Regions from separate parts of the Homo sapiens genome. Here region 1 is linked to region 2. A link means that fine-mapping ties the variant in region 2 to the expression of a gene that starts in the linked region. Tissue or cell type: prefrontal cortex. Region 2 holds a variant in brackets; the other region holds the start of a gene. All regions are shown on one strand. Distances are from middle to middle.

Region 1 (5,387 bases), 20 kb after region 2:
AATTCAATGGGTGGTGACAGCAATTTTTCAAAACGTGAAATAGAATAGAAAATACAACATTACATTGCGCACAGTAAGGGTAAGTACGTTTGTGAAAAGCTTATTTCAATATTTCTGTACTAGTTTGCTAAGTAAAAGATTACTTACACTGGTTTTAGTAAAAGAAAAAAAAAGCCATGGGTCTAAAGGTTTATGTTATTATTATGGAATATAATCACAATACTAAACTCACAATCCCATCATCTTTACCTGAGAATGCTAAAGAAAGCTACAATTTTTAAGGTGAAAACTTCTTTGGAAATCTTGATGAATAAATTTGTTTCCCCTAAAAATCTATATCAGTACGTAACTAAACATTTTATTGTGTTTAACACTAGTTTTGGCTGCAAATACTATTTTTAAAACTGCTTATGACTGTAAAGCAACTTTTCACAACAATTCAAAATAAATAGTGACTTTGATTTTATTTGCTTGTTTATTCTGAGAATCAATTACTAACCTTGGTGCCATTTTTCCAAAGTGATTGATGTAATCTAAAAATCTAAACTTGGCATTCTACACAAGGAACCTGCTCAGGAGCAATACACTTACTAATACTTGATACATACATAGCTGCTGCCTGATTGTATGTAATAGCCAACACCTAAAACTAATTTAAATCACTAAATTAAGTATGGTTTTCTCCAATTCCTTCTGGTGCATTTCAATAGACCTATTTTACCCAGAAAATTTGTCTAATCACTTTGAAAAAATATATGGAAAAACAACCAGTTTAATATATATAAATTTTAAAATAAGCATCTAATTCGTAGGATAAATTAACATTTCCAATCCTAAAGACTTGGATTTGGAAGGAAATCTGTCATCTAGTCCAGCCCCCTACCAAATAAAATAATCCCCACTTCACAATGTTCCTTGGAATCAAACTCATATCTGACTGAAAAGCTCTCACTACTAACCACTACTATATTAACATCTTCTAAAATTGGTTCTTGCCATTAATCAGAAGACTGATAAAGAATTACCTTGAAGTCCTTGAAAAGCAGTGTATATATTATTCTTATAAATCCTGAAAATACAGGTTTAGAAAAGAAGTGACATTTACTTATCACCAGGGATTTCAGTGGCCCAAACTGTCCATATGCTGGTATATTGAATACTGGAGTACTCTGCAAACTTTTGGAGTTTGCTTAAAGCACAAAAATCAACTAATCAAAGTAGTAATAAAATAACAGTTGTCAACTCAAGCTTAAGTTTTCTCTTCATTTTATCAAGTTCACATTCAAGTTTAAAAAGCTTATGAACTTCTTGAAAGTTGAAGTTAGATTGACTACCTAAAAACGAGCAAGTACAACTCTAAAATGATACCTGTATTGTGGCAACAGATACAAATACCATTCTTTACTTTCATTTTGAGATACACTAGAATCTCTCTTGAAGCTAGTGCTTCAGAAGCACTTTTGTAAAAACGCTTAACCTTCTCTTCCATATGCCTTTCTCTACCTCACCAGCTGGAATCTGTCACAAAAACAGATAATCACATATGATACAGAAATAGTTGATCCTACTGCAGAATTAGGTTAACACTTCTAAATTGAGGCATAGAAAAGAAGGGGGTGGGGGAACAAGCCCTACTTAAACAAATCATTTACCTCGGTCTGGCTTCATTTTCACATCCAATTTTCGCCCAGAGTGCTGTGAAATGCACCTGTGGGTTCTTTCAACAGGCTCGCCGCTGATTCTACGGCTTCTGCTTCGCTTTCAAAATGCTGAAAGAGACAAAAATAAAATTAATCTGGCCCTATTCTAATACCCGGACCTTGCAAGTAAACTACTGTTAAGTTAGGCCTCTTCCTGGCACCAACTGCGGTGACAGCACCCTCGGCTGGTCTGAAAAAAGCAAAACTCTCTGCACCGCCTCCCCCATCTCCTCCGGATCGAGCACCCCCTTCCCTGCCTCTGTGCTCTCCAGGCCAATGTGTCCTTCTGACACAGTCTCTGAACCAAAACAGGATCTATTTATAACCTGGAGGTACAGGCAAGAAGAAGAAAAAGATTTGAGCAACACAAACTAACCCCTTCGTACAAAAACGCCTCTGGAAACAGAGGCACCTCCGCAGGGCTGGTATGGAAATTCTTCCACCTGGTGCCTGGGCGCAGCCAACTCTTCCAGTCCCCTGCGCCTCCCGAGCCCTCCGCCCGCCCCGCCGGGCCTCACCTGTGTAATTACCCTCTGGCTAGCCTTCCTGCGGCAACCGCGGCCAAGTTTACACAGAAACCCGAGTCACCTCCTCCCGCCCAGCCCCCAGCCCCAAACGAACTCTTCCGGGCTGTCCCGGGGCGACCCTACCAACTCCCAACCAGTCCTCCGCGGCCGGCTCCGGGGGAGGTGTTTACAGCCTGTGCTCGCCCCCTGCTCTGCACAACCCCTTCCGTCCCGCCGCGGCCCCGGATTTCCTTCAGCCCCGCCGCACCGAGCGCCGCGTCTGCCCCTCTCCCCGCTGGAGAGTTGTTTTCATGGCGCTCTCGAGCTGGCCGGCTCCTCCGCTCCCTCGGCCGACCTCTGCTGACTAACTCGCTCTCCTCTCCCGTCCCAATCCCGCCTCCTCTTGGCACTTCTCTCCACCGCTCGCCCAGCAGCTCACATCACACTCCCACCTCAGACCCCAGGCTCCGAGAGGCGCAGGGCCAGCGGGAGCGGAGTATGGAGCGCAGCGGCCCCCGCGGCTGCCTCAGGTGACCGTGGGGACCCGAGACGACCAGCCCGAAGCGGCTCCCCGGCGCCCCTGTGGCCATCCACCCGCGCCTCAGCCACCGCCTCGCTCCGCTCCCTGCGCTCAGCCCCTCCGCCCTGCCTGACTGGCACCCGAGCCCCGCGACCCCCGGGCTTCCCCCGCCCGTAGCCCCGGCCGGCCCTCTTGCCCAGCGCCTCTGCCAGCTCCTTGCCCGCCCGCTGTCTCTAGCTCTGGCGCCCCGGCTCCCCGTCCCCCTCGCTCGGCCAGTTCTTTCTCTGCTGTTTGCCCTGTCAAAACACTGCCTAGGTCACGTGTCCCAACAACAGCCAACCCACCCCGGTCGTCACTTCCTCCCCGGCGGCCTCCGCGGCCCTGGCGCCCGGTTACTATGGCAATGCCGCCGCTCGCCCCGGGGCGCTAGTTTGGGGCCGGGTTTTCGGTGCAGGTGCCCGGCGGGTGCGAGGGCGCTGGAGATGGCGGCTGGGAGACACCAGCAGAGTCCCGGAAGCCCGAGACGTCCCAGGCACTTCGGTTGCGCTCCCAGCCGGCAGAGGCGCGCCTGGATTCTGAGACCAGGAATCGGAGCTGCGCTATTAGAGCGCAGGGTAACTGGGGAGATGTCATCCAAAGGCCTGCCCCAGACGTGGAGGATAATTATAGTCGTCGTCTCCTCCTCCTCCTCCTCCTCCTCCTCCTCCTCCTCCTCCCCCCTCCCCCTCCTTCCCCCCCTCCTCCTCCTCCTCCTCCTCCTCCCGGGATGCTGGCACAGAGTTGTGATCGAGCCCCAAGTGGATTGCAGCGCATAATGGAACCCGGGTTTAATGTGACCGGGACGGGGGGTGGGCAGCTATGCGGGTCAGGGAGTGGGAGAATTTAAGAACAGGAAGCCCACCCCCACCCTAGATTTTCCCAAATCACTAAGGATTTTAGTAGGATTCAGAACCCAAGCTTCCAAGACACTCGCTGTGCTAAAAATAATCTTCATAACTTCTAAAACACTGACTCATGGGCAGGAGGACACTTTGACAGCATGTTATTGTTGGGGAGCTGTAATTTTGTTGTTGTGCTATAGCAATGTGACATGATGGCATTTCATGTTGTGATGTTGTCGTCATTTAAACACAAACAGATGACAGGAATCTGCTGTACTTAAAAAAAAACCCAATCCTAACAAGCGCTGCAGCTATTAGCTACTCAGTCTATAGACAAAGTACATATGGGGCATGAGCCCAAATGGAGACAAGTAAAAATTTGCAAGGCTCTTTGGTTTCATTAGAAAAAGTTTTTTTTTTAGATATAATTTTGCATAAAAGGATCACAGGAAAGTATTAGGACAAGTCTAAGGGGATTTTTTTTATTTGTGCCCTTCTGTTTTAAAATTTTTTTTACAATGAGTCTATTATTTTCACATCAGAAGAGTTTTATAAACTGCAAGATTGGCAGTTCCATTTTTTTGGCCTCAGGTAAAGTTCTTATGAAAAAGGCATGAAATATTTAAAAAGTAACATTTTCTAGTGCTTAGATATGTACAGTAAAATAACATGTACAACTGAAATTGTTAACCTTAACTCCACGATTGTATCTAATCAGAGCGGAGAGAACATTCAGGAGGGTAACATTTCATTTTCTCTGAAATGTTCTGGCATCATGACGATGAAACTGACAAATGGAAACAGTTCTTTAATCTATAAAATGCTACAAATGTTAAATCCCAGTGGATTTGACTTTGATATTATTGAATACTGTATTATGTAGTTTTTAAAAAATGAACTGAAGTTTTACTTGTTCTACAAGCACTTGGTAATGGGAGACAGAACAGTTACAGATAAGCCAAAAACCTAAATTTAGCACAACAGCTGGGACCAAATAACAGCTATTGTAAAAGGCTTACTGGGTGAACAGGCAGCAAAATCTGGTTTAGCTTCTTTCTTCCTCTATCTAATGCAAAAGAGGTAAAAAGACCAGGAAATGTTGAGAGCAGAAGCCAAGACTATTAGTGTGTAGCACAAACTATTCTCTTTTAAATAATTTTTAACAGCACTTGGGTAAATGATGATGTCAACATTTGTTAGACTAACCTGAAGTTTTTTTAAATTTAGAATCTTAAACCTGTTCAAAAATTTGAAATCATTATGGCAGCAGAAAAAGTATTTAAAAGGTGTATTTCTGACTCATTATTCAAATTGTTTCATTCCATAATATGCATTTACTGAATACTACCTGCTAGGCTCATACAAGTCTCTGAGAATGTAAAGGTCACCAAAACCAGATAGGGTCACTACTTTCAAGGAGCTTATAGTACTATTACAGTTACATGGCCCTAATCAAGTCACATTCTAACACCTTTGTTTCACCTATAAAAGTGAGGTGTTTAGACTCTGACAATAGTTATCGCTTTCTTTTATCCTATGATTATGTAACACATGTTCAGAGCGTTTGGAAATAATGACTTGAAATGGCAATTCACTCTAAGGTGCTCTGTTCACACCTCAGAGCACATAAACAGAACAAATGTTTCTAGTTCCTAGTTGGTGAAGGGTAAGGGTAAGCAAGGGAATCAAGATAGCTGGCAGGAACCTTACCCTCTTTTCATCTGATTTGCTTTCCATTTTGCTTTCCCCTAGGGTTTCAAAGCCGTATATGAGTAATTAA
Region 2 (5,387 bases):
TTAAACCAGTTTTTATTAAAAAACAAAATGTGATGTTAGGTCAGTTCAGGGATAAATTAAGCCATACATTATATTGACTTCCACTTACATGAGATTCCTAGCAATCATATTTGCTGCAATGATTACCCACTGACTTGCATTCATTATAACAAGGTACAAATAAACCAAATGGCCAAACAGCAACCAAAATATACTGTTTTAAGAGTTAAACACATTCTTAAAATTAAAATGCTAAAAAGTACCTAAGAGACTTAATTGGGACTCTCATATTTCAAAAGATTTTGGGTTATGATGACCTAGATTAGTTCCAGGAGCAGTAGCTTGTTTACCAAATCTAAGATCTTGGAAAGAAGAAAATGTTCTAGCCTGTTTTTGGCATCATTCATACTACATTGTTTAAAATGAGCTAGAATGGGGGTTATTTATAAGCTAAGCTACTGGACAAACACTTCATCTAATAATATCTTGTATACACATAAGTCAGATTTAATAAGAATCAAGATCAGGTATTAAGAATTCACTTTTAATATCCTATATACTTTGTCTTTGTAAATTAGTATCACCACTATTACATAAAATGTGTGCAGAGGTGCATACGGGTTTTTCTTTATCCATACTTCTTTTAAAGATATATTCTGGGATGTTGTTAATCTCCTGCTATTACAAAGAATGCTATGTTTGATTCAATCTGAAATTGAAAACCAATCACACATTTTTTATTATAATAAAATAACATTTTATGAAAAGTTTTTCCATGAAGACAATGGATCCCATATTTACTTGTCCCTTTGACAACTGCAACTTTGTGAAATAATATTTTGTAGATGAAGAAACTGAATCATAGAAATTAAGGTAGCCGTTGGGTTACCCTGTAAGAATCACCAACTCTAGGTTTAATTCCAAGTGCTGTTTTTTTTTCCACAATTACCTATCACTGATACATGTCATTACCTCTGCTAATAGAGACAAACAGTCATACAAATGACTGATTCTGCAGTTTAAATTCTGGAGAATGTTAACAGAAATCTGGTAGAGTGACACAGTTGTATGTGTATTTAGCCAATCTTGTGTAGGTGTAAGGAGACTCAATCATTAAGTCCCCAAAGCTTTAATACTGTTTGCTTTGCATTTAACATTTTTTAAAATTTGCTTATTTGAAACTATTTCACATTGGTTTGCTTCCAAGTGATATGACTAAACTCTTTTGGCTACCTCAAACTCTAGCATGTCTAAAACTGAATTAGTTTTCCTCTGAATAAGAGTCACCATTATTATCAGTGGCATCCTCCCAATTCCCTAAGCTAACAAACTTCGGAGAGAACATACTCATTGACTGTGTGTTTAGTAAGTGCCTGGCACAACCACTTCACTCAGATTATGTCATTCTAATAAAGTTATAAAATGGTGTAAAATACTATTACTATCCCAGTTTTAATCAATAAAATGGAAACTCAGAAAAGTCAGCAACTTTAGCTTACACAGAGAAGGTAACAAAATCAAATCTTGAACACTTTTAGTTCTAAGTGCTAAAACAATCTGTAGAATTAATGTGTGTAAAATTAATATAAAGAGTTGAGACTATAATTTTCTTTTTAAATAAAGTAGAAAAAAGAAAAAATCAGTCATCATTGCTTATAGCAAGATTGGTAAATAACTTGTTTTTGGGCAGGGGTCGATAGGGATGTTGTCATGGGGGAGCAATGTGAAATGTCTAATTGTGGATTGCAGTCAAAAAAATTGTAAAGTCACTGCTCCATCTGACACTGTCTCTCAATTACTACCATCCCCTCCACTGTCTCCAAATAGATATTGGTTTTTACCATATCATATTCAACAAACATGGACTTTGGAAGCACAATAGCTGAAATTAGGTAGAATTTTACTAAATAGAGTTGGAGAAAATAGTCGCTAGAGACGTACAGCCAAAATTCATATACATCACAGGCTGCCACCACTCAATTCTACTGGCCCTCTTTTACTAGAGGTGACACTACTTCTAAAGACACAGATGTTTAGAGATCCCTAAGGATTCACAATGTACAAATCCTATAACTACTGAATATAGCTTTCTGTGTAGAGGGAGATAATAGTTGTCTTTTTCCTTATATAAATGCTAGAGTCAACCTTTCTGTCAAGAGCTCTCCGTTTTCAATGCAATTTCAGTTTATAAAGTACTTATCATTTGAATACCTCAATAGTTTTCACCATTTTAGACCAGCAAGATTTTAACTACAGCACCTAAGAGAGGAAACATCAGTAAGACCTCATAAACTGAGTGCCTCAATTGAAGCTCGCACTTAATGGGAA[T/TA]AAATTTTCATTCTTCATTCACAAAAACAAAACAAACCATCAAACATGCATGCTCCCTTCCCATTCAAACTCAAAATATAGGAGACCACCACAAACAGAAAGGGATAGTGGAGGCCAGGCATGGTGGCTCATGCTTGTAATTCCAGACTTTAGGAGGCTGATACAGGAAGATTGCTTGAGGACATGAGTTTAAGACCAGGCTGAGCAACAGAGTGAGACCTCGTTTCTACAAAAAAAAAAAAAAAAAAAAAAAAAAAGTTAAAAATCAGCTGGGCATGGTGATGCACACCTGTAGTACCAGCTTCTCAGGGACTGAGGCAGAAGGATTGCTTGAGCCTAGGAACTGGAGGTTGCAGTGAGCCACGATTAAGCCACTGTACTCCAGCCTGGGCAACAGGGCAAGAACCTGTCTCAAAAAACAAAAAAAGAAAGGGATAGTAGAGTGTACAATTTCTGTAAGTTTGTACGGGCCATCTGATACTCTCTTACTCCTCTGGGCCAGCTCCCCTACCCCCAACCCCCAGCTCTTCTAAAACATCATAGGGTAACCTCAGCTTCTGATTCACCTGTTGCCCCAGGAAGAAAGGACTTTGTTTTTTGTTTCTTGTTTTTTTCAAACCACAAGTTTCTGAGGGCAGAGGCCATGTTAGTTCTTGCTCATCACAGTACTTCTAGCACATATGTGCCAGGCACATTGAAAGTGCTTGGTTATACTTGTTTCAGTGAACAAGAGAGGGAGAATGGTCCAGATGTCTAAGGTTTTACTATTTCTAACAGTTAAATTCTAAAATGTTGTCATATTTAACCAATATGACTATATAATCACAACTGTTTATTGCAGAAGGAAATATTCATAAGAATTCCTATCACTTTGAAAAAGAACATTTTGTCAAAATATGGGTGTTTGGTAGAAACATTTTAGAAATAGAGCATTTCTAAAACAAAATCCAAGTGTTTTGTACTAAATCAAAACAAGCATCCCATGTTGTCAATCCCTTGATTTCATACAAGGACCCATGTAAATTACAAAATATTAGATGCAATATCCTACAAAACACAGCTGGGGCAAATGAGCTATTTTAATCTATATTTAAGCTATCTAAGTACAGAATGAAATACCAGTTAATGAAAGACAAGACTTGAGTGCACTAGCAGAACAGTAAAATGACTATTAGGGTTATCATAAAATTCATTGCCCACTGAGGTGGGAGGTTTGCTTGAGGCCAGGAGTTCAAGACCATCTTGGCCAACATAGCAAGACCTGTCTCTAAAAAGAAAAAAATATATATTAAAAAAATAAAAAAGTAAAATTCATGATCCAAACAGTGGTAACACACTTAGAGTGAAAGGAGACCATTGTGAAATAGGATTGGACACAGGACAACAGGCATAAACCAGGATCATCCTATGTAGCATTTAACCCAGCCCATCAAAGTAGTTTGAACTTAATGGTACAGTTAGAGATATAAAACAGTTAAATATGTTAAATTTTTTAAGCGTGAATTTTGTATTTCATGAAACTCACTGATATAAGCCCAAAAATAAAATTATGATATCTTAGAACTTACATAGTAGTTGTTGAGCAAGCAACAGGCGCTTAATTTTTTATCAAGCATCTAATAAATACTAATTCTGTGCCAACCTGTGACAGGTATGAGGAAAACAGCTGGGAAGAAGTCAGATGTCATCACCACCCTTGAAGAACAATTATTCTAGTGAAGGAGACAGTATAATATGAAGAAATGAGGGAAGCACAAACTATCATATAGTACCTGGCCTTCTTTCAGTTCCTAAAGCATGCCAGACTCTTTCTAAATTCAGAACCTTTGCACATATACCTTTGGCCTGGGATGTTCTTTCCCCTTACACAGCTGGTGCCTTCTCATCCTCTGCTCATTTTCTCAGGGGCCTTACCTAACCAAAGAGGACTTCTCCTTGCTCTCACTTAGTCACTCTCTTAGCCTTCGTATATTTCCTTCAGCGCACTTGGAATGTGTTTATCTTACGCACTGAAGAAATGCTAATTTATTAACAATAACAACAGGCAAATTTATTGAGTATTTATTCAGAATCAAATACTATTTTCTTTTCTTTTTTGAGACAGAGTTTCGCTTTTTTTGCCTAGGCTGGAGTGCAATGGCTCGATGTTGGCTCACTGCAACATCCGCCTCCCGGGTTCAAGCAATTCTCCTGCCTCAGCCTCCTGAGGAGCTGGGATTACAAGCATGGGCCACCAATCCCAGCTAATTTTTTTATATTTTTAGTAGAGATGGGGTTTCTTCTTGTTGGTAAGGCTGGTCTCAAACTCCCAACCTCAGGTGATCCACCCGCCTTGGTCTCCCAAAGTACCGGGATTACAGGCGTGAGCCACTGTGCCTGGCCTAAATACTATTTTCTAAGCACCTTATATGGATTATCTCATTTCCTCATTACAGTAGCCCTTTAAGTAGGTATTATCACTAGCCTCATTTTTTACACATTGAAACTAAAGAAAAAAATTGTCCTCTATATTTCTAAATAATTAGTTTATACCATTTCCTGATTTAATTTGACAATTATCTCTAATTTCTTATTTCTTTATATCCATCTCTTTCTCAGCTTCCTAGTTTCAAGGATGAAATGTCTTATTTACTTTGAGTCTACTTATTACCATTCGACTTACTTCTAAGAGTATCTATGTATTACTTTGAGAACAATGTCAAAATATAATCACCTAGCCTGTTTCTTTCCAGTTTCCTGATAAAAGCCAGATGATCATTATTTCATTTCTGGTGCCAGAACCTAGAGGCAATTGTGCTCTGCTAGAGGCATGAAGTAATACAAAATACAGAAAATATTCCAGCAACTAGCAGGGAATTTGAGTTTTACTTTTTTAGTTGGACAGGTTGCTTTTCTCTGGGTCTTACATTTTCTCAACTGTAAAAATGAAAGAAACTCACACACTCTAAAGATCTTTCCAACTGTGGTTTCTAGTGACAGAGTGATTTTGTAATTTCAGAATAACAAAATTATTTTCACGCCCTCAGCTTTTTAAAGTGGATTTAATATGTACCACTGTGTAACCTGAATGTTGTTGTTTT

Direction of the effects. Alleles are on the strand shown, and positions count from the first base shown. SD is a standard deviation of normalised expression in the study named.
For the expression in prefrontal cortex of the gene that starts at base 3,035 in region 1, allele T in region 2 goes with a lower level than allele TA (moderate effect, 0.49 SD a copy in BrainSeq).

Evidence for each region. PIP is the estimated chance that this variant, and not a neighbour inherited with it, causes the effect.
Region 1: it holds the start of ATOSA, and the variant in region 2 is fine-mapped to the expression of ATOSA in prefrontal cortex (BrainSeq, PIP 0.90).

What each region holds. Positions count from the first base shown.
Region 1 is chr15:52,676,354-52,681,740 of GRCh38, forward strand. ATOSA (atos homolog A) reads right to left here and starts at 3,035. Exons shown (of 13, transcript NM_001385016.1): 1 at 2,475-3,035; 2 at 1,653-1,769. The coding sequence starts at 1,668. LOC105370821 (a long non-coding RNA gene) reads left to right here and starts at 3,252. Exons shown (of 4, transcript XR_932255.4): 1 at 3,252-3,340. RefSeq lists enhancers at 1,731-1,800, 1,931-2,070 and a silencer at 2,651-2,970.
Region 2 is chr15:52,656,265-52,661,651 of GRCh38, forward strand. All of the region lies in intron 2 of ATOSA (atos homolog A), which reads right to left. Among named protein-coding and RNA genes, the nearest start is that of ATOSA, 20 kb to the right of the region's middle. RefSeq lists an enhancer at 2,819-3,008. The variant T/TA (reference allele first, on the strand shown) is at 2,308.